Homo sapiens: one gene and its partners. The protein of the gene in region 1 interacts with the protein of each later gene in a pairwise test. Each region holds a gene or a part of one and is shown on either strand. Other genes may lie near its edges.

Region 1 (7,258 bases):
TATTAGTAACCATAGCTAAACAAACACTGTAATATAAGAACTCCATTAGACATAAGAAATAGACATTGAAGCCAGGTTTTGACACTTATTCTCCACATCCAGCCAGTTGTCACCAGTCTAGTAAGTGCTACAGGGTTAACTGCCTCTGGACTGACTGAAATATGGTTGTACTTACACAAAAGAACACTGGTTCAGATCCAGCAATGACTTATGAACTTGCCCATAGGTAGAAAAAAATAGCTTACTGGATTTATATCTGCTTCATAAGAGACTTTTATCTGCCAGCCTGACCCCTCTTAAAACTTTTTTTTTTCTTTTTTGGTTTGATATACTCAATAGGCACTGGCTTTTTTTTGTGATGTGGCTTTTTTTGTGATGTGGCTTTCCACACTATTGTAGAAGTCCAGAATCCCATTTAATAAGATGCATGAGCTATTAGTCAATGAACTTTAGGGCTGGATGGATCAACGAAGTGTTTTTCACTGCCCCAGCTTCCTTATGAACCAGATTACTGACCAGCGGTGAACTACAATAAATTCGAAGACACAACTAACAAAAACTTAGGAAGGCCTGGAAGAGAGGTGCCAAACTGCACTGCAAATACAAAATAAAATATTTTCATGTTCTTGATAAATATTTATAAAAAAATATACATATAATGAATAGGCCATTTTATAATGCTAGTTAAAACTTTGAAGAGCTGTTAAATCTGTAGGTCCATCAATATCCTGGCTTCAAATCAATATGTAGAAATATTTTTAATTAAATTTCAATAAATACACCAGAGGGATTTAAATATGATAAAAACAGTAATTTCAATCTCTGTTTTTACCAACAATATGTTTAATTAGTTCGTGATGGGCTTGAACTAATCAATAAACTACAGTCTACAAAAAGGTTTTTGTAAAAATGCATTCATTTCTGATAATAAATAAATGCAGATTGATTCTGTACAGTCAGAAAAACCAGGATGGTGGCAAATAGCAAAATAGAGAGATGATAAATCTTGGATCCAAAATCAAATGATCAAAGAAGACAGTTAAAGATATTTTCAGACTGCCCACATTAGAGTCATGTAATCTGCATCATTCTTTCTCAAGGTCTCTCAATTGGGCACCAGAATAACATCAGATCTAAAACCTTGTTCAATATTTCCTCTGGTTCACCTTTTGATTATGTAACAAATACTTTTTGCAAAAGATGAAAAAATAAAACTGTAAAATCATTTGGATGGAGTTAGCCCAGCTAGGTCTTTTGGTGTCCTAGCAATTCAAACTGAAATTAAAGGCTTCTTATAGCCTATAAGCTTCTGAAAATGCAGCTAAGTGGCATTCAAAAAGACAGAACATTTTTTCTACTTCCGTAAATATAAAAGAAATTGAAAAATCACCACCTAGAAAAAAAAAGCTAGGCATAAATTCATCAGCACCAAGTAGAAATGATCTTCAAAAGGGGCAAGTCTCTTATGTATCCTTGTGTTAATGAATAGGTACTAATCTCTCCTCTAGGAAAAACCCACTGCCTGACGTTAACATCTTTAGGCAAAAGAAAAGGCAAAACTCAACAAATTACATTTTGATTCATCCAAATAGAGAGAGAGAGAGAGATTTCAAGATTTTTGGCACTACTTTAAGCATTTTTCAGGGTAGGTATGATTTTAAGTTCGACTATCTTCTTCCCTACTCCATTATTTGCAAAAGCAGGAAGTATCAAATTTAACTCTATTACTAATAATTCTTCAGGTATCATTCCAAAAGTTGTACTTAGTCACAATACAACAGTTAACATTTAAATAAGACTCTAGTTGCAGTAAAAAGTGTTGAAAGGTGGTCATATCAAAATCTTGGTTTTCTTTTGTACCTATCAGATATGACTAAATTGTTGGTGGCCAGAACTCAAATCACATACAGTCAACCACATTATTGGATCCATGACCTACATCTCGAATTTGGCTAGTTAAACAGGAACACACAGCTACTCCTGCTCCAGCTCTGCAGTGAGACACAGATCCAACAAGCTCCCACCTGAAAAGACGGAGAAGAAAAAATGTTACAAAGCATAATTTACTTTACTCAAAATACTAACCAAAGACAAAAATTCCCTATGTGAGACTGGTTTTGTAGGACAGCAAGCTTCCAGTGGGAGATAAGATATCCCAAAGCTTAGTATTAACTACGACTAGCAACATTTTAACACTCTGAAGTAATCTACTATTATACCAGAAGATAATATAAAGCACGGAGACAACATGTAAATTACCTATTCAGCACTGGATCAAACGCTTCTACTGTATTTAAGTATGCATTGCCATTATGACCACCAACTGCAAAGATTTTGCCCATCACTGTTGCGATTCCCACTCCACCTCTGGGAGTAGTAAGTGCTGCCACATAATCCCACTTGTTGCTTCGGGGGTCATACCGCTCAACTGAACTCAGAGGAGAATTATCATCAAAACCACCTATGTAAAGAAATATTTTAAAAACAGCATTACATTCCTTAGAAATTAACTACTAAATTTCAATTCAATGGCTTTTACAACCCAATCTTTTAAAATCATTTTAGAATGGTTTAGAGAAAATTTTTTTAAAAAATTCATCCCAATACCTGTCTACCACCACCAACAACTACCATTAGATGTTGTCTACAATTCCACGTTAGGTAAGTGACATTTTCCTCAATACTAGGATTAAAGATCTTGTAAGTAGGAAAAAAATGGAGTCCCTGTATCTAAGCAGATAATTCAGAGAAAAAGAAAAAAAAAACACAAACATTCATAAATTTGTCCTTAGCCGTCTAGAGACAAGCAAGACAGTACTGAGATTCCTTCTCTGTGTATTATATCTTAAACAGTAAGAAGGCATAAGAAAGGAATAAACTGAATCATGATTCATCCAGATAAAAGTTAAAGTTTTCCAATTGTTTCCCTTAATACTATAATCGCCATCATAATTACAGAAATGGTGGACTATGACTGAATTCTCACCAATTTTTGTCATAACAACATTTTCCTCCTACATATTCCAGAAGATAGCAGTCCTTTCTATAGCTCATTCTAGCAATGTACTTAATCTGTTCCTGAGGTTATAGAGACTGTTATTTCAACAGTGCTCCTTCCTTTAAAAACAAGTGTCTCTTTTTGAGCTCCAAGTCTAAATGAATATAATAGCTTTCTTTGGTGACAGCCTAATTTACTGAGAATAGAAAGTATTGATATTATGATCAATCTATATAAAAACAAGGTCAGAGGCCGGGCGCGGTGGCTCACGCCTGTAATCCCAGCACTTTGGGAGGCCAAGGGGGGCCGATCACGAGGTCAGGAGATCGAGACCATCCTGGCTAACACGGTGAAACCCCGTCTCTACTAAAAATACAAAAAAATTAGCTGGGCATGGTGGCGGGCGCCTGTAGTCCCAGCTACTCGGGAGGCTGAGGCAGGACAATGGCGTGAACCTGGGAGGCGGACGCTTGCAGTGAGCCGAGATTGTGCCACTGCACTCCAGCCTGGGCGACAGAGCAAGACTCTGTCTCAAAAAAAAAAAAAAAAAAAAAAAAGGTCAGAAAAAAAAATTCAAGTCAACCTCTCTAATGGGTTTAATTTTATTAAATCAATTAAAATGAAATTCACCAATTTTATCTGCATTCTTTCCATGAATTCTGACAAATGTATAGTGTCATTACCATTACAACCATTATATAAAACATTTTTTCATTATAATAAAGGGTTTGGTTTTAATTATTGCTCATGCTAATGTAGATTAAGGGTTTTTTTAAATTTTTGTTTTGTTTTGTTTTGAGACAGGGTCTGACTGTTGCCCAGACTGAAGTGCAGTAACACAATCACAGCTCACTGCACTCTCAACCTCCTGGGCTCAAGCGATCCTCCCACCTCAGCCTCCTAAGTAGCTGGAACTATAGGCATATGCCACCACTCCTGGCTAATTTTTTTTTTTTTTAAATAGAGATGAGGTCTCAACTATGTTGCTCAGTCTGGTTTTGAACTCCTGGCCTCAAGTGATCCTCCTGCCTCAGCCTCCCAAAGTGCTGGGATTACAGGGGTAATCCCTGCACCTGGCCAAGTTTTTGATAGCTATATTTTCCATAGTCTTCTTTTTCACTAGTTCCCTATCATTTCCCCAGATAATGCATAAAAATGTATTATAACAAAGAATTCAAACCAGGGATAGAAAAAGCAAAATGCAATTAGGATGTTAGACATGCCCACACCTTCAATTTTTTCTTATTCAAATCAGTTGTACCTGTTTTAAGTAGAACCTGAATGACCAAGAAGATTTTTTTAATGTTCAACCTGAATCATTCTTATTTTTACCATGTCTATTCTAATTATAAGGGTCCAAAAGATTTAAAAAGTAACAGCAACAATGTTATTCCTGTCGACATATAACACATGTCAATGCCTGTGGTAGACAGGGAGCTGTGAGAGGTAGCAATGATGTAACATAAGAACTTTGGATTCACAGATCCAAGTTCAAATTCCAGCTTTGCCACTTATTTATGCATGTGAACATGAGTAAATTATTCATTCTCTCTGAGTCTCTTGACTACATTACAGAGCTGTTGTGATAATCAGGCAAGATGTAGAGGTAAATTATGTTACTTCCCCTCTTCTTTAATACACATGAGCACTGAAAGATTCAGCATTACTTCTGCTACTTATAAGAGAATGCTGTATTGTTAGCATATAAATATCTATAAGAAATATGTTAAGTAACACAAACAATTTACATCAACATATATAAGCAAATGTGACCTTTGCTAGTGACAACCTCTCTGAATTCATTTCCTCCTCTATAAAGGAAGGTATTACTAATCACAATATAGCTAATCATGTACTGGGGAACTACAAAGTGCCGGAAACACTTTGAGATGCTTAACATGTATTATCTCTTATTCTTAAAATGATTCTGAAAGATAGACATTATTCCCGTTTCATAATCATTTAAAGCCTTGCTACTGGAAGTGTGTTGTGTGAACCTGAAACTGCATCACTATAACTTGAGAACTGTTTGAAACACAGAAACTAGGCCCCTCCTTTGCAATATAACAAGATCTCCAGATTATTCATATGCACATTATGGTCTGAGAAATCACTGATCTAATGTTCCTCCCAACTCTGCAATTCAGTAAGTCAAAAAGCAATATAGATCAATTACTGAACACTACAGCCAGGGCAAGCCTTGCAGTCCCCAAGTGGTGTGCATTCGTTCCCACAGCCCCACCAGGAAGCAACGTGCCTGCAGCCCTGAGCCGGATGACCTGGGGACCAGCAGGGCAGCCATGGTGAGGAGAGTGAGGATGCGGGGGCCGCTCCTGCCAAGAAGGCCCCGGCCAGATAAGACAAGCCCAAGACGCTGCCCTTCTTGCTGCTGGGCAGTTGGTCAGTATCCAGAGCAACGAGGCTGTGGCCCTACTCAAGACTCATGGCCTGTAACATGTCCATGGGCTTTGGTGAGAGTTGGAAGAAGCACCTCAATGGAATTCGGGAAACGTTATTTTATCAAGATAAAAGGATTTGTCGCAGAAGAAAGGAAACATTACACTGTTTATCCACCCCCACACTAAGTCTTCACCTGGACCCAGATGTGTGACATAAGAGATGTGAAGGTTGTCATCCCAGGACAGGACCCATATTAGAGACCGAATCAAGTTCATGGGCTGCTTTAGTGTTCAAAGACCTGTTCCACCTCTGCCTGGTTTGGAAAACATTTATAAAGAGCCATCTACAGATATGGTTTTATTCATCCTGGTCATGGAGATTTATCTGGGTGGGCCAAATAAGGTGTTCTCCTACTCCAGGCTGTCCTCACTGTTCTGCCCCATCAAGCCAATTTTCATAAGGAAAGAGGAGGCTGGGAGCAATTTACCAATGCGGTTGTGTCCTGGCTAAATCAGAACTCGAATGGCCTTGTCTTTCTGCTCTGGGGCTGTTATGCTAAGAAGAAGGGCAGTGCCATCCACAGGAAGCAGCACCATGTGCTGCAGATGGCTCATTCCTTCCCGTGTACAGAGGGTTCTTTGGATGTAGACAATTTTCTAAGACCAATGAGCTCCTGCAGATGTCTAGCAAGAAGCCCACTGACTGGAAGGAGCTATGATCCTGAGCTGAGGAGTAGTCTGTCTCCATTGGTGGTTATTGGGAAGCTGTTGTTAAAGTATTTGTCACTTACAAAATCAAACTGAAAAATTTCCTATTAATTCTTAAATACTCTGCATAAGGGGTAAAGCTTCCATAAAGCAGCCATGAACCAGGTTGCCCAGAAATGGCAGCTTTATATAGCCACACATAGCAAAGACTATCCTTTGGCCAAATGTCTCTACAACATGGCTTCAGCCTAAAATATGCTAACTTCTCAGAAGACAGATGAAGTCAAATGCTCACTTGGCTCTCTTTACCCCACACCCCGCCCCCCGCCTTACCTTTATGGTTAAAGGGGGAAGATATATACCCTTTAGGTAGAACCATAGTTTGATGCCTGCTGTTACTTGGTTTTGCCTAGTTAGACTTTCAACTACAAGGTATTTTAGGGGGTGTTTTTGTGTAGAAAGGCCCCCTTTTCCCAGCCTGGCAGGCATTCCAGTCTCTGCCAAGTACACTTATACTCCCTTGATCTTTCAAGGGGCCTTCAGGTCCTTCCTTGAGGGAACTATGAGGGTTTTGCAGGTTTCTAGAAATCTGGCCGTGAAATTAGGGCTCAATTTTCTGATTGTAGTAAAGGTGAAGACTCCTAAGGAACAGCGCTTGGTGTTGGCCTTAACAGACAGACAAGGGCTGAGGGATGTGAACTGAGTCTTGTTATTCTTTCGGCGTTTTGTGGAATAAGCAGTGAAATTTAGACAAGAAAGAATAGAAAAGAGAATTCTTCTTTAATGGGGGGAGGTGATTTTCTCCTAGGGTTATCCTGAGTTGGGGTTTTTAAGATAGCACAAACTGCTGCATGCTGTTTTTTATGGACTGAAATCAATTTATAATATTTTTTTCTGCAACACTGGAGATTTTTATTTTTTAAAAGATATATATATGTATATATATGTGTGTATATATGTGTGTATATATATACGTATATATATGTGTATATATATACGTATATATATGTGTGTATATATACGTGTATATATGTGTGTGTATATATATGTGTATATATATACGTATATATACACACATATATATACACACACATATATATATATCCTTCTTTTTTAAGACACAATCTTTATTGGGTCTGTACCTTCATCCTTG
Region 2 (7,258 bases), on another chromosome or scaffold:
CAGGTTCAAGCAATTCTCCTGTCTCAGCCTCCTGACTAGCTGGGACTACAGGCATCTGCCACCATGCCTGGGTAATTTTTGTATTTTTAGTAGAGACGGGGGTCTCACCATATTGGTCAGGCTGGTCTCGAACTCCTGACCTCAGGTGATCCGCCCGCCTCGGCCTCCCAAAGTGTTGGATTACAGGCGTGAGCCACCATGCTCAGCCAGTTTCTTTTTTTTTTTTTTTGAGACAGAATTTTGCTCTTGTCGCCCAGGCTGGAGTGCAACAGTGCCGTCTTGGCTCACTGCAACCTCCTCCCAGGTTCAAGCGGTTCTCCTGCCTCAGCCTCCTGAGGAGCTGGAATTACAGGTGCCCGCCACCGCGCCCGGCTAATTTTTGAATTTTTAGTAGTGACGGGGCTTCACCATGTTGGCCAGGCTGGTCTCTAACTCCTGACTTCAGGTGATTTGTCCGCCTTGGCCTCTCAGAGTGCTGGGATTATAGGCGGGAGCCACCACACCCGGCCCCTCCTGTGGTTTCTAATGCTGTAGTAGCTGGGACTCCAGGTTGCACGTTTTGTTCTAGGGAATGTGCATCAGCCTTCACCTGCAAGCCCCGGGCCCCCTGCACTCCAGAGATGCTGGACTGGAACCCACCCAAGGCAAAGGCGTCAGTTCTGGCCCCTCTGTTCTCTTCGTGTGGCCCCCAGCAGGCCAGCCGCCCCGGCTCCACAGCGTCCTCCACAAGGGGCCTGCCGAGTAAGTCAGCCTGGGCCCCACTGGCGTGGGAGCCTGGCCACCCGCCAACCTGCAGGGAAGGGCATTTTGCTGCTATATTTGGCCCCGTGCTCCTGTGTGTACCAGGCCAGGCCAGAAGGGCAGAAGGCCTGCTTCCCTTCCCCACACAACCAGGCCCCAGCAGGTGGCTTCCTTTCCTCCAGGGACCGGTTCTGCATGAATCTTCCTTCCTATTAAATTCCCTTTGGCCTCAGTGACTCAAACTCAAGCTGAGGAGTGAGACCTCCAGGCAGGTCACTGAGAGAGAAGCCCCTCCCCACTTCCCTCTGTGGAGCTCACAGAGTTGGCCCTGAGCTGGCCCTGCTGCCCCGGGGTTGGCCCTGAAACTCGGACCTGCCCTGGTGGGAGGTGGTCCAGCCCCTGGTTCAGCCACTGTGTCCCTGCCTGGCCCAGCCTCGGTCAGGCCACCCCCAGGTCAAACAGAAGCGGGTGTCTGCTCGCAGGCTGGATGGAGGGGCCGCCAGAAGGGCCTGAAGATGGGATGGGCCCAAGGGCCCCCACTCTCTCCCTGGGGCCTCTCTCTCACCCTCTCACCTGAGGCTCACTGTAAGGACCACTTCTTTGTCTTTCTCTGTCCCCTTCCAGCCTCTGCCAATTGATAGCCCCTCCACCTCCACGCCCCAACTGAGCTGAACCTTTCTAGAGGGCTTTACCAAAACACAGGGAAAACAAAAGGACAGAACAAAAGGCCAGGCAGGACGAAAGGAGTCCCGCTTAGGATATGCGCATTTCTTTGGCCGCCCCCAGCCCGCCCCACCCTACTACCTTCCTGGCCAGGCCCTGGGCGCTCTGGTCAGCTGGGGACACGCTGGGTTGGAAGTGGGGGTAATGGCCATGGCTGGGGAGCCAGGTTGGGACCCCTCCCACTTCCCACTGGGAAACACACCCAAAACCCCAGCCCAGCCAGTCGCAGCCCAGGTCAGGCGCAGAGGAGGTGCAGCAAATCCAGGGGAGGCTCGGCCAGGAGGAAGGTGCCACTGGGGCAGGGATCCCCAGTCATAGCAACAGTGACACCAGCAGCTGGTGGCTGGCCTGGCCCCACATCTAGCAGCATAGCGTGGCCACGGTGTGGACAGCTCAGCCAGCCATGGGCGTTGTGTGTCCTGTGGGCTCAACAAACACGTGAGCTGTTGCCAGCAAAGCTGACTGAGTGACCCGCACCAAGCAGCCTGCTTCCTGTGAGGAAAGAGCCGGCCCGCCAGTCGAGCCCAGGCCACAGAACAGGTGACCTGGGAGAGGGAAGGTTCCCTCGCTTCTGAGCCGGCTGAAAGAGGGACTGAGTGGGACAGAGGGGATTCTGTGCGGAGACCACACAGCACTGGCATCTTGCTCTGGCTTTTCTCTCCAGGCAGCCAGTCTCACAGGAAGTAAGGATGTCCCCGGGTGTCCCCATCACGTTGCCGGAGGACCAGCCAGCTTCCCGCTCTCAGCTGGCAGCAGCTGCCGGTGATGGATGTGAAGGGACAGTTGTCCACAAGACTCTGGGAGCTGAGGGGAGGCCGGCTCTCCAGGCAGCACCAGAGCAAGGCCATCGCAGCCCCGCCAGCCGGGTCACTTTCTCCCAGGGCAGAGCCACCAAGGAGGGCTGGGGAGAGCCTGGCATTGCCCTCCTGGAGAGGGGAATTTCCTGCTCACCCTTCACACACAGAGGAGAGGGGTGGCTTTTGCCCGCAGGAGATCTTCTGGCCCCAGAAACAGCAGGTGCTGGATTTGCAGCCCTGGCCCTCCAGGCCCCAACAGGGCGACAGTGTAGGGCCAGCCTGGAGCAGGGCTTTTCCAAGGCTGCTGAAGCCAGCCCTCCTCACTTGGGCTGACTACCAGGACCCAGAAGGAACTCAGGGTGAAGCTCATTTTATTCTCAAGCCTGCGTCTCAGCAGCAAAGTTGGTGTTTTCTTCCTGTGTTAAAATCTGAGAAAGAAGGCCAGGTGCGGTGGCTCACGCCTGTAATTCCAGGACTTTGGAAGGCTGAGGCGGGCAGATCACGAGGTCAGGAGATCGAGACCATCCTGGCTAACGTGGTGAAACCCCGTCTCTACTAAAAAAATACAAAAAAATTAGCCGGGCGTGGTGGCGGGCGCTTGTAGTCCCAGCTACTCTGGAGGCTGAGGCAGGAGAATGGCGTGAACCCGGGAGGCGGAGCTTGCAGTGAGCCGAGATCGTGCCACTGCACTCTAGCCTGGGTGACAGAGCGAGACTCCGTCCCCAAAAAAAAAATTCTGAGAATATGGTGTGTTCCAGCCTCTTCAAAGCTCTGCTCTTCTGCACACGTTTTTTGAAGGCCTTAAAAAGGCCACCAGTGTGACCAGGGAGCACCCTCTGCCTCCCTCCCTGCACTGGGACCATAAACATAAACAGCTCTACCAGCAAAGTGACCCATCCCGCGGGGGAGGCCTGCGCACGCCCCTCACCAGGGCTGTCATCAGAATCCAGTCTTAGGACAGAGGAAGGATGTTTGCCTTCAGGACCAGCAAGTCACAGGTGTCCTGGATGTTACCCAAGCTCTAAAATCAAATAAAACCCATCAGTATTTAGTGGTGTGTGTGTGTGTGTGTGTGTGTGTGTGTGTGTGTGTGTGTGTGTGTGTGTGTGTATGAGTGTATGAAGGGAAATGGAAAGCAGAGAAAAGTCGCGTGCCCTCCCCCAGGCACCTGATCTGCCCACAGACCCTTCAATGGGGACATCTCTGGTCCCAATGGTCGTAAATAAAGGCTAAGCGCTGGATTTTTCCATGGCCCCCTGACTCCTCAGGAGCGCAGGCAGAGGAGGTAAACAGGAGGCCAGGTTACCCATGAGATGACCAGAAGCTCATCCAGGGCCGGGACCCTGGTTCATCTCGTGAATTCTTGGCAGCGGCTCCAGGCTGGGCACATTAGATGCTGTCATGTGACTGGCCTGGTGGCCACCTCTTGGTTCTCTGGAAATGTGTCCACTCTGTGCTCAGGGAAGAAGGCTGCCGTCCTGACCTGTCAGCCACCAGGCCCTCTCTGAACTCCTCACTTGACCCGGAGGCATTGGGAGCAAACACAAAGCTCGCCCCTGGTGTCAGTGGTGCAGACAGAGGAAAAGCAGAGGGTCCGCAAAATGCAACTCCTCCGTGGTGAGACTTTGAAAAGGTGTAGAGTGGTTGCAGACAAACAGCAAAGGAGTGGAATGGAAAAATCTCTCTTGCTCCCCACAAGAAGTCCACTCCCCTACGGATTCCTCAGATGCCACTGGCTGGCACAGCCTTTCCCGCCCTTGGTGTGGGAGCAGCAGAAGTCCAGCGGGGGTGGGAGAATCATCGGGGTCAGGTCAGTGTCTCCCTCGTCTGAAGTCAACCACTACTTTTCCCTCAAGCCTACCAAAGAGCTAAAGTCTGATCTGTAGATGTCTGATGGTTTGAGGAGAAGAAAAGATAGTCTTTTAGAGAAGTGGGGAGTATCCAACTTAGGGTCAAAATACACTGAGATTAGGCCGGGCACAGTGGCTCACACCTGTAATCCCAGTGCTTTGGGAGGCCGAGGCGGATGGATCACTTGAGGCCTCCAGGAGTTCGAGACCAGCCTGGCCAACATGGCGAAACCCCGTCTCTACTAAAATACAAAAAATTAGCTGGATGTGGTGGTGGGTGCCTGTAATCTCAGCTACTCAAGGAGGCTGAGGCACAAGAATAGCTTGAACCGGGAGATGGAAGATGCAGTGAGCCAAGATCACGCCCCTGCACTCCAGCCTGGGCGACAGAGACTCCGTCAAAAAAAAAAAAAAAATACATTGAGATTACCAGGTGGGGTATGTGTGGTTCTTCCAGGAAAGTGCTGAAAATATCACCCAGGCCTCTGCGCCACGCCCTGGGAGAGTACACTCCTGGGCTCACGCCTCTGCATTCCAAGGCTGACAGCTAGAAATATACTTTGTAAAATACCAACAACTTATTCACAAATATTCCAACTATCTACCAGCTCCAATGAGCTTGCTGAGGATGGGTATGACCCCAGTCTAAGGGGAAAGAATCTAAAACACAAGTAAACCTGTTTAAAGGCCAGATCTCCAGATGGAGATCCAAGCAGATGGCGCCTAAGGTTTGCCCTTGAAAACTACCAAGGAAGCCACAGAGAGGGATCTTTGGACCTTCTGGAAAATGGTAAGGCCCCAGGTAGATTATGGCTCCTCTGCCCTGGAGGCTGAGCCGCCCCTCTGGTTACCTCACATCTTCTGGTTTCTTCTGAGTGGGACTTGATCTCATTTCTGCATTCACAGCAAGGTGGAACTGTCTGGCAAGAGCTTAAATTAGGACCTGTGGTGGGGACTTTAATAGGCAGGTGGAGGTTTGAGATCCAGTGAGATGCCAGAGATTAGTCAATAGGTGAGGAAAGATTTGGCCCAAATCAAAAGAGCTAAAAAAAAAATAATAAAATAAAAATAAAAATAAAATAGTTGAACAAATAAGGTTCATGAAAAAAAAAGAAAAGAAAGAAAAGGTAAAGAAAAGAAATCCATGATAAAATATCAAACTTTTTAATAAAAACAAGTCTGGCCCTGTACTTGGATGACCCCACCTGGCTTGTCTAACCCTAATCCCAGCCCCAGTTTTAATAAAACTGTATTTACAAAATAGGCAGCTGGGACGTGGACCAGAGATACCAATTTGATTTTTTTTAAATATTACATTAAAATATTACATCATGTGTCTTCATTACTGAGTTTTGGGGTAGCCCTTTAAATTTTGTATGCAAGGTGAATACCTCACCCCTCTCTCCTGGCCTAGAATCTGGGGGATCCTCCTGTCCCTCCCACAGTGCCTGATAGCACAGCCTGGGGCTGGTGGTGTGCCTGTTTGCCTAGCTTTATCTCTCCAGATACTATTTGGGGTGTGCTGTTCTAAGAAGTGATTAGGTTAGCTTTTGCATATTAACAAACTACCTCTGAAACTTAGTGGCTTAAACCAACAAATGTATTAGCTTTATAATGATTTGGATCAGTGATGGGGGCTGGGCACGGACAGGCGATTCTTCTGCTGGGCTTGGCTGAACTCAACTATGTCTTATGGTCAGAGGGCAGTCAGGGGCTTCGCTCATGTCTGGTAGTTGGCTGTTGGCTGAGCCCTTGGTTCTCCTCTGGCTTAGGCTTGTTCACATGGTGGCCTCGGGGCTCCCATGGCAGTTAGAGAAATCAAGCCCAAGTCTCATATCACGTTCACTATTCTCCCATTGTCCAAAGCAGACCACATGGCCAAGGCCCAAGTCTGTGTGAAAGGATGTGGATACAGGGACCCCGAATGAACCAGAGGCAATACTGCTGCAAGCTACCACATAGATGCTGTTCAGAGCTTTGCAGGACCAAATCTTTTAGGGCTGTTTTTCCATTGTGGTATACCCTCTCCATTTAGATTCAATTGAACAAATATATTCTTTGGGGCTGCAGTGTGTCAGATGTGGAGACATGGTCCCACTGGCTTTCAAGTTGCCATCCATCTTCTAGGGAGAATTTCTGGCCTTTTCGGATGGCATGGTCCAGGCCGGAGCACCAGCCCCAGGTTGAAACATCAGGCAGGTTTCTAGGAAATGGTTGCAAAATTAGCAAAAAGTCAGGGCTACAGAGCCCTATCCAGAGTCGTCATCTTAAGGTGTCTACTAAAGCCTGGGGGTGGATGGGATCTCAGAAGGGGGACTAGAGAAATAGGAAACTGGGGACAGAACCCGGGGGTGAGAAAGAAGACAGCAGGTGTTGTGGGAAGTCAGGGACCCCAAACGGAGGGACTGGCTGAAGCCATGACAGAAGAACGTGGATTGTGATGATTTCATGGACATTTATTAGTTCCCCCAAATTAATACTTTTGTAATTTCTTATGCCTGTCTTTACTACAGTCTCTAAACATAAGTTGTGAATATTTCATGGACACTTATCACTTCCCCAGTCAATACCCTTGTGATTTCCTATGCCTGTCTTTACTTTAATCTCTTAATCCTGTCAGCTGAGGGGGATGTATGTTGCCTCAGGACCCTGTAATAATTGCATTAACTGCACAAATTGTACAGCATGTGTGTTTGCGCAATATGAAATCTGAGCACCTTGAAAAAAGAACAGGGTAACAGCAATTGTTCAGGGAATAAGAGAGATAACCTTAAACTCTGACCACTGGTGAGTCGGGCGGAACAGAGCCATATTTCTCTTCTTTCAAAAGCAAATGGGAGAAATATCGCTGAATTCTTTTTCTCAGCATGGAACATCCCCTGAGAAAGAGAATGCACACCTGGGGGTGGGTCTCTGAACTGGCCCCCCTCCCCCGGGGGCGTGGTCGTCTCTTATGGTCGAGGCTGCAGAGATGAAATAAACTCCAGTCTCCCATAGCGCTCCCAGGCTTATTAGGAGGAGGAAATTCCCGCCTAATAAATTTTGGTCAGACCGGTTGCTCTCAAACCCTGTCTCCTGATAAGATGTTATCAATGACAATGGTGCCCAAAACTTCATTAGCAATTTTAATTTTGCCTTGGTCCTGTG
Region 3 (7,594 bases), on another chromosome or scaffold:
GCCCTCTGTGGAGAACTTGCTATGAACTGTAACCTACTAAACTGCTCCTAGAAGAACTTGCTGCTCAGAGTATCCAAACCAGCAGGTGACACCTCTGCTAATAATTCACATTTGACTTTAGGTTGCATTCATTGTTTTTATTTTTGCTTTTTAAACTAACATCCTGTCCTGGTAATGTCACATGAGTGTGATGTTGATCAGGTATACCTGGGGCAGATATTCCTAGAGAGTGTGCTGCCTGGCAGAGGAAGCAATTGAGTTGGTCATTAATTTACTGGGTGGATTCCTAAATGGGGGCCTCAGAGCAACTGCTTTGGGTAACAGGGAACATCTTTGCTGTTTCTAGACCCCTGGAGAGGGCTTGGCATCCTGACAAGGAGGCCAGGATGAGCAGCTCCGTCTTTTGAATAGCTCAATCCAGCCTCAGACAGTTGAAATTAGATGTTAATCTCTGACCAGGCATAGTGGCTCACATCTATAATCCCAGCACTTTGGGAGGCCAAGGCGGGTGGATTCCCTGAGTCTAGACATTCAAGACCAGCCTGGACAACATGGCACAATCCCATCTTTATGAAAAATACAAAAATTAACCGGGCATGGTGGCATGTGCCTGTAGTCTCAGCTACTCGGGAGGCTGAGGTGGGGGTCTGGCCCCCACATCCCAGGTCTTTCTGCTACACCACACTGTTGCCATAATGACTTCGACCTCATTCTGCCATCTCCTAAGAAAGCCAGAGTGCAGGCTAGGAATGTCACCTGAGCCCAGGAACTCAAGGCTGCAATGAGTGGTGATTCCACCACTGCACTCCAGCCTGGGCGACAGAGTAAGATCTTGCCTCAAAAAACAAACAAACAGCTGGGCACGGTGGCTCACACCTGTAATCCTAGCACTTTGAAAGCTGGGGCAGGCGGATCACTTGACATTAGGGGTTCCAGACCAGCCTGGCAAACATGGAGAAACCCCGTCTCTACCAAAAAAAATATTAAAAATTAGCTGGGTGTGGTGGTGCACGCCTGTAGTCCCCAGCCACTTCAGAGGCTAAGGCAGGAGAATAGCTTGCACCCAGGAGGTGGAGGTTACAGTGAGCCGAGATCATGTCACTACACTTCAGCCTGGGTGACAAAGTGAGACTGTCTAAAAAAAAAAATACTTTTAAAAAATAATAATTTTAATAAATGCCTACATATATGCGTGTGTGTGTATATATATATATAACATTTTTTTTTGAGACAGGGTGTTGCTCTGTCACCCAGGCTAGAGTGCAGTGGCCTGACCAGGGCTCTCTGCAGCCTCGAACTTCTGGGCTTCGGTGATCCTCCCATCTCAACCTCCTGAGTAGCTGGGACCACAGATGCATGCCACCACACCCGGCTAATTAAAAAAAGAAATTTTTGTAGAGACAGGTTTTCCTATGTTGCCCAAGTTAGTCTCAAACTCTTGGGCTCAAGTGATCCTCCTGCCTTGGCCTCCCAAAGTGCTGGGATTACAGGCGGGAGCCACTGCACCTGGCCTCAAATGCCACCATATTTCTGATTCCTGTCACCTCCAGGCTCAGAGACTGTGAGTAAACATTCTGGGCAGATAATCGTTTGCAATTGCTTCCAGAGTGCTCTTTGCTGAGCTGTTAAGCTGTGGGCTAAGTGGTAAATGTCAGGTATCTCTGCTGTCGTGGGCCAGGTGCTCAGATTGCTAGGATACAGCAGGGGGTGCCGAGATGAGGCAAGGGGCCGGGTTAGGAGTCCCTGCTCTAGCACAGCGATACTAGCTGAGTCCATCGATGACCTTTAAACCCGCTTCCCCGGTTCTGTCTAGATTACAGGGTTTGGAAGGCTTTGGAAGATGTGTTCAGAGAACTTTGCCCAAACTGGCCCACGCCTGTTCCAATGCTATGCATAGCTGTTTCTGATTCTTAGCCAGCTCAGGCCCTCTATTCTTTCCATGCTGGTCTGCGGCCTCCGTTACCCACCTGCTGAGGGCGATCTTCTGGTGGAGCAGAAAGCCCCGCTCGTAGGGCCAGGGCAGGCCGGCCTCGAACCACTCTCGGCAGCGCAGCACGGGCGAGATGCAGGCGGCGCCTGTCACGTAGCTGGAGGAGCCGCACTCGCCCAGGTAGGACAGGAGCAGCGCCGAGCCCGAGCCTTCGCTCACCGCGAACAGCGGCGCCGCCGGGTGTCGGAAGCGGATGTATGTGACCGCCTCCTTGAGGTCGGACGGGTCCCCGAAAGGCTGCAGCCGGGGGCTGACCAGTGGGCAACCGTGGTGGCCGCGGCGATGGAAGATGACCGGGTAGTAGCCGCGCTCCAGGGCGAGCAAGCAAAGGCCGAGCACGTTGCGGGTGAGGCGACCCCACGCATTGGGGATCACCAGAAGCACCGCAGGAAGGCCCCCGGCGCTGGTGATCCGGCGGCCCCGAACACAAGGTCCTACCACCCAGTCCAGGGCCACTAGCCCATCGTCCGCCAACTGCAGGTACTCCCGGGCCAGCTCAGGCCCAGGCGCTACGGGCAGGACGAAGTGGCAGAGGGTCTGCAGGTGGGGCCCGGAGAACCAGGAGCGCGGGCCGGCCTCCAGCGCCTCTGAGCGCCGCAGGGCGCGCAGCAGGCACTGGGCCAGGGCCGACGGCTTGCAAACAAGGCTGCACCCTCCCGGCAGTGGCTCGCGCCCGTCGCTGAACTGGTCCGCCGGGCCTCCGCCGTCCGCCTCCTCCCCGTCGTCTCGGTCTTGGGCCCCCGGCAGGGTCCTCTCTCCGACGGCGCGCCCCCAGGGTCCCCGGAGCCGCGGGCCGAGCAGGCCGAGAAGGGCGAGCACGGCCAAGATGAGCGCGAGGGCGGCGCCCCACGGCGGCATGGCGAAGCTGGAGAGCCCCGGCGGGCAGCGGGCGGCGGGGCCGTCTACTCGGCGAGCTCCGCGCTTTGCCCGCGGCTCCGCCCGCCGGCGGCGGCTGCCCAGGGCCCTCCCGCGCGGGCGCGCTCTGGATTGGCCGTGGCCGGGCAGAGGCAGCCAGTTCGGGCCCGGCTGCCCTCGCCCGCCCCCCACCCCCGCCCCGGCCCTTTGTACAGCAATTGCAACAAGTGGGAGCAGAGGGTGAGAGGAGCCGGGGCCACCAGGGAGGGAGGGCGCGCCGGCAGCCGGAAGGGAGTGGGGAGGGCACGAGCCGGGGAGAGCGGTGTTGGCCATGGAGACGTGGGGAGACTGGAGGCCGAGGCTTGGGGACCCGACTGTCATCAGGGTCTTCCGCCAGACCCTGGGCGCTGCGCCCTCAGAGGCCGATGAAAAGAAGCAGAAGGGAGAGGTGAGTAAGTCGCAGCTCCGGGCGCCGGCTCCCGGGACCCCGTGGGGCGGCGGCCGCGCGCGCGCTCTGCCCTCGGGCGGCCCTGCTCTCCCCCGCCCGGCCCCGCAACCCCGCAATAACTTGGCTGGGCGGGGTCCGGCACTGGGCTAGAGAGGTCGAGCGCGGCGTCTTGAGCCGCTGGCGGGAGGCTGCTGCTTCCCCGCCTGCATCAGTGCGGGTCCCGTGGACTCCTCGCCCCCGTCCCCGCGAGCTCGGGGCTCCACATCAAGGAAATCCTCAGCCCGGGAGTGGCTTCCCCAGAAACAGCAGCCCCAAGCCTCCGAGAGTCAGTCGGAGAAAAGGACACACTCAGGCGCCCTGCGACAGGGATGCCCGTCCGACCTACAAGGAACGCCTCGTAAACCGGGGTGCATGGGAGACCACGGAAATAACACGTTCTCGCTGTTTCCAAGCTTTGGGATAGGCATCTCGACCCTCGCTCTCTACCCACGTTTCCCCCCCAAATCCTGGAGAGGGAACCAGAACCAGCGCCCCGCTGCGGGGCGGGCCGGCCAGCGCACCTCCTGGGGGTGAGGCCTGTGGCGTCCCCATCTCGCGGCGACCAATCTCTTTCTAGACGCGCGCCTGCCACCGCTGGGCGACGGCGGAGGTGGGGAAGACAGCAGCCTCTCGGCTAGCTCCGGCCTCCCGGGGCTTCTGGGTTTGGAGAGTTTGGGGAGCGGAGACACCTCCCGAGGCTCCTCCGCGTTGGACCCTATTTGCGAGGGCGGGAGCGGGGTGGGCCGACGGCGAAGCTCCAGAGGTGGGACCCTCTCCCTTCAGCAGCTCTTCCTGACTTCATGATTCTGCCCCTCTTCTCATTGCAGGTCACACCGACAAATCTGAAGCGGGTTTGCCAGGGGAGTGTACCCGTCTCCCCAGCCTGGGCCACCCGGTCCACAGGGATTCCATTTCCGGCCTTACACTCCGCTCCACGATCTCATCCAGGCGCTGCAGCTGTGCAGCTGCTCTACAGACTGCAGGGACCTGCTGAGACGAATCCCCGGACGAGGAAAGGGGCCCCCCGCCTGCCCTACTGAGCCTTGCGCGCTGACCCGGTTCCTACACTTAACTTTTCCGGCTTCGGGTTTAAGACGCGTGCGCGCACACTCCGCTGCTGTGGGCGGGCATTGGGGCGGGGCGATACCGGGGGCCCACTGTCTGGGGAGGGGCGCGCGCGAGCCCAGGGCCAACGGACGCGCGGGCGGCGCGGGCGGCGCGGGGGCGCTGGGGCTGGAGGGGCGGGGCGCGCGCGCTCCCTCGCTGGCGGAGCGGCTGGGCGGCGGGCCGGGCCCGGGGCCGCTTGGAATGGCGCCTCCTCCGCCTTCGCCCCAACTGCTTCTCCTGGCAGCCCTCGCGAGGCTCCTGGGTCCCAGCGAGGTAAGGTGACCCGCTCCTGGGAAGGCCTCGGCCCGCGAGCTCAAAGCGCTTTGCCAAAAGTTCGTCCTGGAAGGAGTGGCGCGCCGAGGGGGACGCGGAGTTCTTCCGCTGGCGGGCTGGGCCTGGGGAGAGAGAGGGCAGGGCCTCGCCGCGTCCAGCGCCCCAACTCTTCGCTTTGGACCCACAGGTGATGGCTGGACCGGCGGAGGAGGCGGGAGCCCATTGTCCCGAGAGCCTGTGGCCTCTGCCTCCGCAGGTAGGAGCCCTGGAGGGCCCAGGGAGAGAGGGATGTGAAAGGCTAGCCCAGTCCCGCTCTGTTCTCGCCGCACCCTCCACAGTCACCATCTGAGGACCTCTGCCGGTTCCTCAGTCCTCAGTAGCCAACTTCTCCATCCCAGCCTGGCGCTTGGGGCCTGCCGTCCCCTCCCCACCACACACACACGGAGTCCCCCAACTGCCCTAAGCTCTGTTCTTTCCCCATGTATAGGTGTCACCAAGAGTGACCTACACACGAGTGAGCCCAGGGCAGGTGAGTACAAGCAGGGGCCCACCACCCTTGGTGTCCACGCCTGGAGACAGGCGCTCCTAGCAGGCTTCGCTGCCTGTTCTGCTGATCGGCCCCATTCCTTACCACTTCCCTCAGGCAGAGGCAGGGTTCTAGTTCTCTGCCCCACCTCCAAGCCCAGGACAGATCAGCCCCAGGACAGATGGCTCAAAGACAGTGAGCCATAGGCCTGTCATCTGCAATGCTGTGTCAGGATGCTGTTGGGTAGCTGGCTCTGTGGACAAGTGGCTGTGAGTGGAACTCTCTCTGAGAGTAGCTGGAAAAAACCCAGGCTCCAGCTCCCTGAGGAGACAGCGGGAAGTCTCCTGACTTTGTGGGCCCCAGCTTTCTGTAGGAGAGGGTATTAATTCTGTCTCTACCTGTGAGCAGCGAGGGAGGGTATGTGCCAGCACCGTGTACAGTACAGAGCTGCATCGTGCAAGGAGTGTGCCTCCAGTTGCCAGGCTCCACACTGCGGGCTCAGCTTGCGTGGTAGCATCTCCATCTTCATCGCCAGCTCCTCTGAATTTTCCTTTGAAATACTTATTATTATTATTATTTGAAATGGAATCTCACTCTGTTGCCCAGGCTGGAGTGCAGTGGCACTCACTGCAACCTCTGCCTCCAGGTTCAAGCAATTCTTATGCCACAGCCTCCCGAGCAGCTGGGATTACAGGCGTGTGCCACCTAGCTTAGCTAATTTTGTATTTTTAGTAGAGACGAGGTTTCACCATGTTGCCCACGCTGGTCTTGAGCTCCTGACCTCAAGTGATCTGCCTGCCTCAGCCTCCCAAGTGCTGGGATTACAGGTGTGAGCCACCATGCCTGGCCTGAAATACCTAACTTAAATTGGCCAGGCATGGTGGCTCACACCTGTAATCCCAGTACTTTAGGAGGCTGAGGCGGGTGGAACACCTGAGGTCAGGAGTTCAAGACCAGCTTGGCCAACATGGTGAAACCCTGTCTCTACTAAAAATACAAAAATTAGCTGGGCGTGGTGGCACACCCCTGTAATCCCAGCTACTTGGGAGGCTGAGGCAGGAGAATTGCTTGAGCCCAGGAGGCAGAGGTTGCAGTGAGCCGAGACCATGCCACTGCACTCCAGCCTGGCGACAGAGCGAGACTGTCTCAAAAAAAAAAAAAAATTCTCTGTAATAGCTCCAGGCCAAGAGTTGTTGCCTCACGCCACCTATCAGATTCCTTTCCTCAAACAGCCCTTTCATGAAGTCATTCCTCTGTTCACAAACTGTCAATGGCTCCTTATTTCCCACCTTATCGTGGCCATATTCTCCGGCCTGGCTTTTCAGGCCTTACTTAAGTAAGCTTCGTCTGACCTCTCCACATCCTTGGTTCCTCTCCAGTTGTGTCGGGCTGTTTGCCACACAAATGAGTGCCAGCCTCGCCCTTACCACAGCCCCTTTGCTCCTGTTTATTCTCCTCCACACCTGGCCTATCCTGACTCGGAGAGTGCAGCTCCCTGCCCTCCTGCCATACTCCCCCAGCCATCTTCCCAGTCCCAGCTGGCATCAGCTCCCCCTGAGACACTGCCCGATGGCATCAGCCTTTATTCCTCCCCTCCTCCTCTGAATCTATCTCTGATAATTTAACAACTAATCACTAAGTTTTATTAGTTTGCTGTTTTATTTGCATTAGTTGTTTCCCTGAGTTTCTCACACACTCCTTGCAAGCAGAGTCCAGGAGTTCTTTGGCATCTCCCACAGCATCTAGCACAGCACTGAGCACCAAGTCAACTCAATCAAAGAATAATGAATGATTGATGGAGTATTTCCATCCTGAGATTGTGCACCTGCTGCCTGCCTGCCCTGTATTTGGATGCTCTTGGGAGACTGTATAGATTGGATCGATGGTCTTCATTTGGGGGTTGCTTATGGCTTGGATTGTGGACCTGTAGAGCCATCGTTACACCTGCAGGGAAATATGGCTAGAGTGTGGTCTGAGTCTGGCAGGATTATCCAGGCATGCTGTGAGCTTTGAAGGGTGGCACTTGATGGAGAGGAAGGGTGAAAGGAACACTCAGAGGCAAGAGTGGGTACATGCCAATACCCAGGGCCCTTTGTCCTTTCCTGGGCCCTGAAGGTAGAAGAGCCATCCAGCTATCCTGGGAGTACCTTTAAACTGGTCCCCTGGATGGGAGAACTTGAGATTCTCTGGGAGGGCTCTGGGCCTGCTTTGATGTCTCTGTGCCTTTCCTCCAGGCTGAGGATGTCACCTTCCTCTACCACCCCTGTGCCCATCCCTGGCTGAAGCTCCAGCTTGCCCTCCTGGCCTATGCTTGTATGGCTAACCCTTCCCTCACCCCTGACTTCAGCCTCACGCA

What was found. The genes of interacting proteins can lie anywhere in the genome.
Region 2: the proteins of KLHL8 (region 1) and ARMC9 interact in binary tests that used the Homo sapiens proteins (3 or more experiments, as listed by UniProt).
Region 3: the proteins of KLHL8 (region 1) and TP53I13 interact in binary tests that used the Homo sapiens proteins (3 or more experiments, as listed by UniProt).

Annotation. Positions count from the first base shown.
Region 1 is NC_000004.12:87,161,619-87,168,876, forward strand, and holds part of KLHL8 (kelch-like protein 8), read right to left. Parts: intron 6,314-7,258; exon of another isoform or gene 5,228-6,313; intron 2,462-5,227; coding exon 2,260-2,461; intron 2,025-2,259; coding exon 1,901-2,024; 3' UTR 1-1,900. UniProt on the Homo sapiens protein: Substrate-specific adapter of a BCR (BTB-CUL3-RBX1) E3 ubiquitin ligase complex required for The BCR(KLHL8) ubiquitin ligase complex mediates ubiquitination and degradation of RAPSN.
Region 2 is NC_000002.12:231,369,385-231,376,642, forward strand, and holds part of ARMC9 (lisH domain-containing protein ARMC9), read left to right. Parts: intron 1-568; coding exon 569-741; intron 742-2,128; coding exon 2,129-2,151; 3' UTR 2,152-7,258. UniProt on the Homo sapiens protein: Involved in ciliogenesis. It is required for appropriate acetylation and polyglutamylation of ciliary microtubules, and regulation of cilium length. Acts as a positive regulator of hedgehog (Hh)signaling.
Region 3 is NC_000017.11:29,564,119-29,571,712, forward strand, and holds the start of TP53I13 (tumor protein p53-inducible protein 13 isoform a precursor), read left to right. Parts: upstream 1-4,582; 5' UTR 4,583-4,640; coding exon 4,641-4,712; intron 4,713-4,899; coding exon 4,900-4,968; intron 4,969-5,199; coding exon 5,200-5,241; intron 5,242-5,355; exon of another isoform or gene 5,356-5,471; coding exon of another isoform or gene 5,472-5,507; intron 5,508-7,472; coding exon 7,473-7,594. Other genes in the region: protein ABHD15 precursor, read right to left, coding at 1,968-2,848.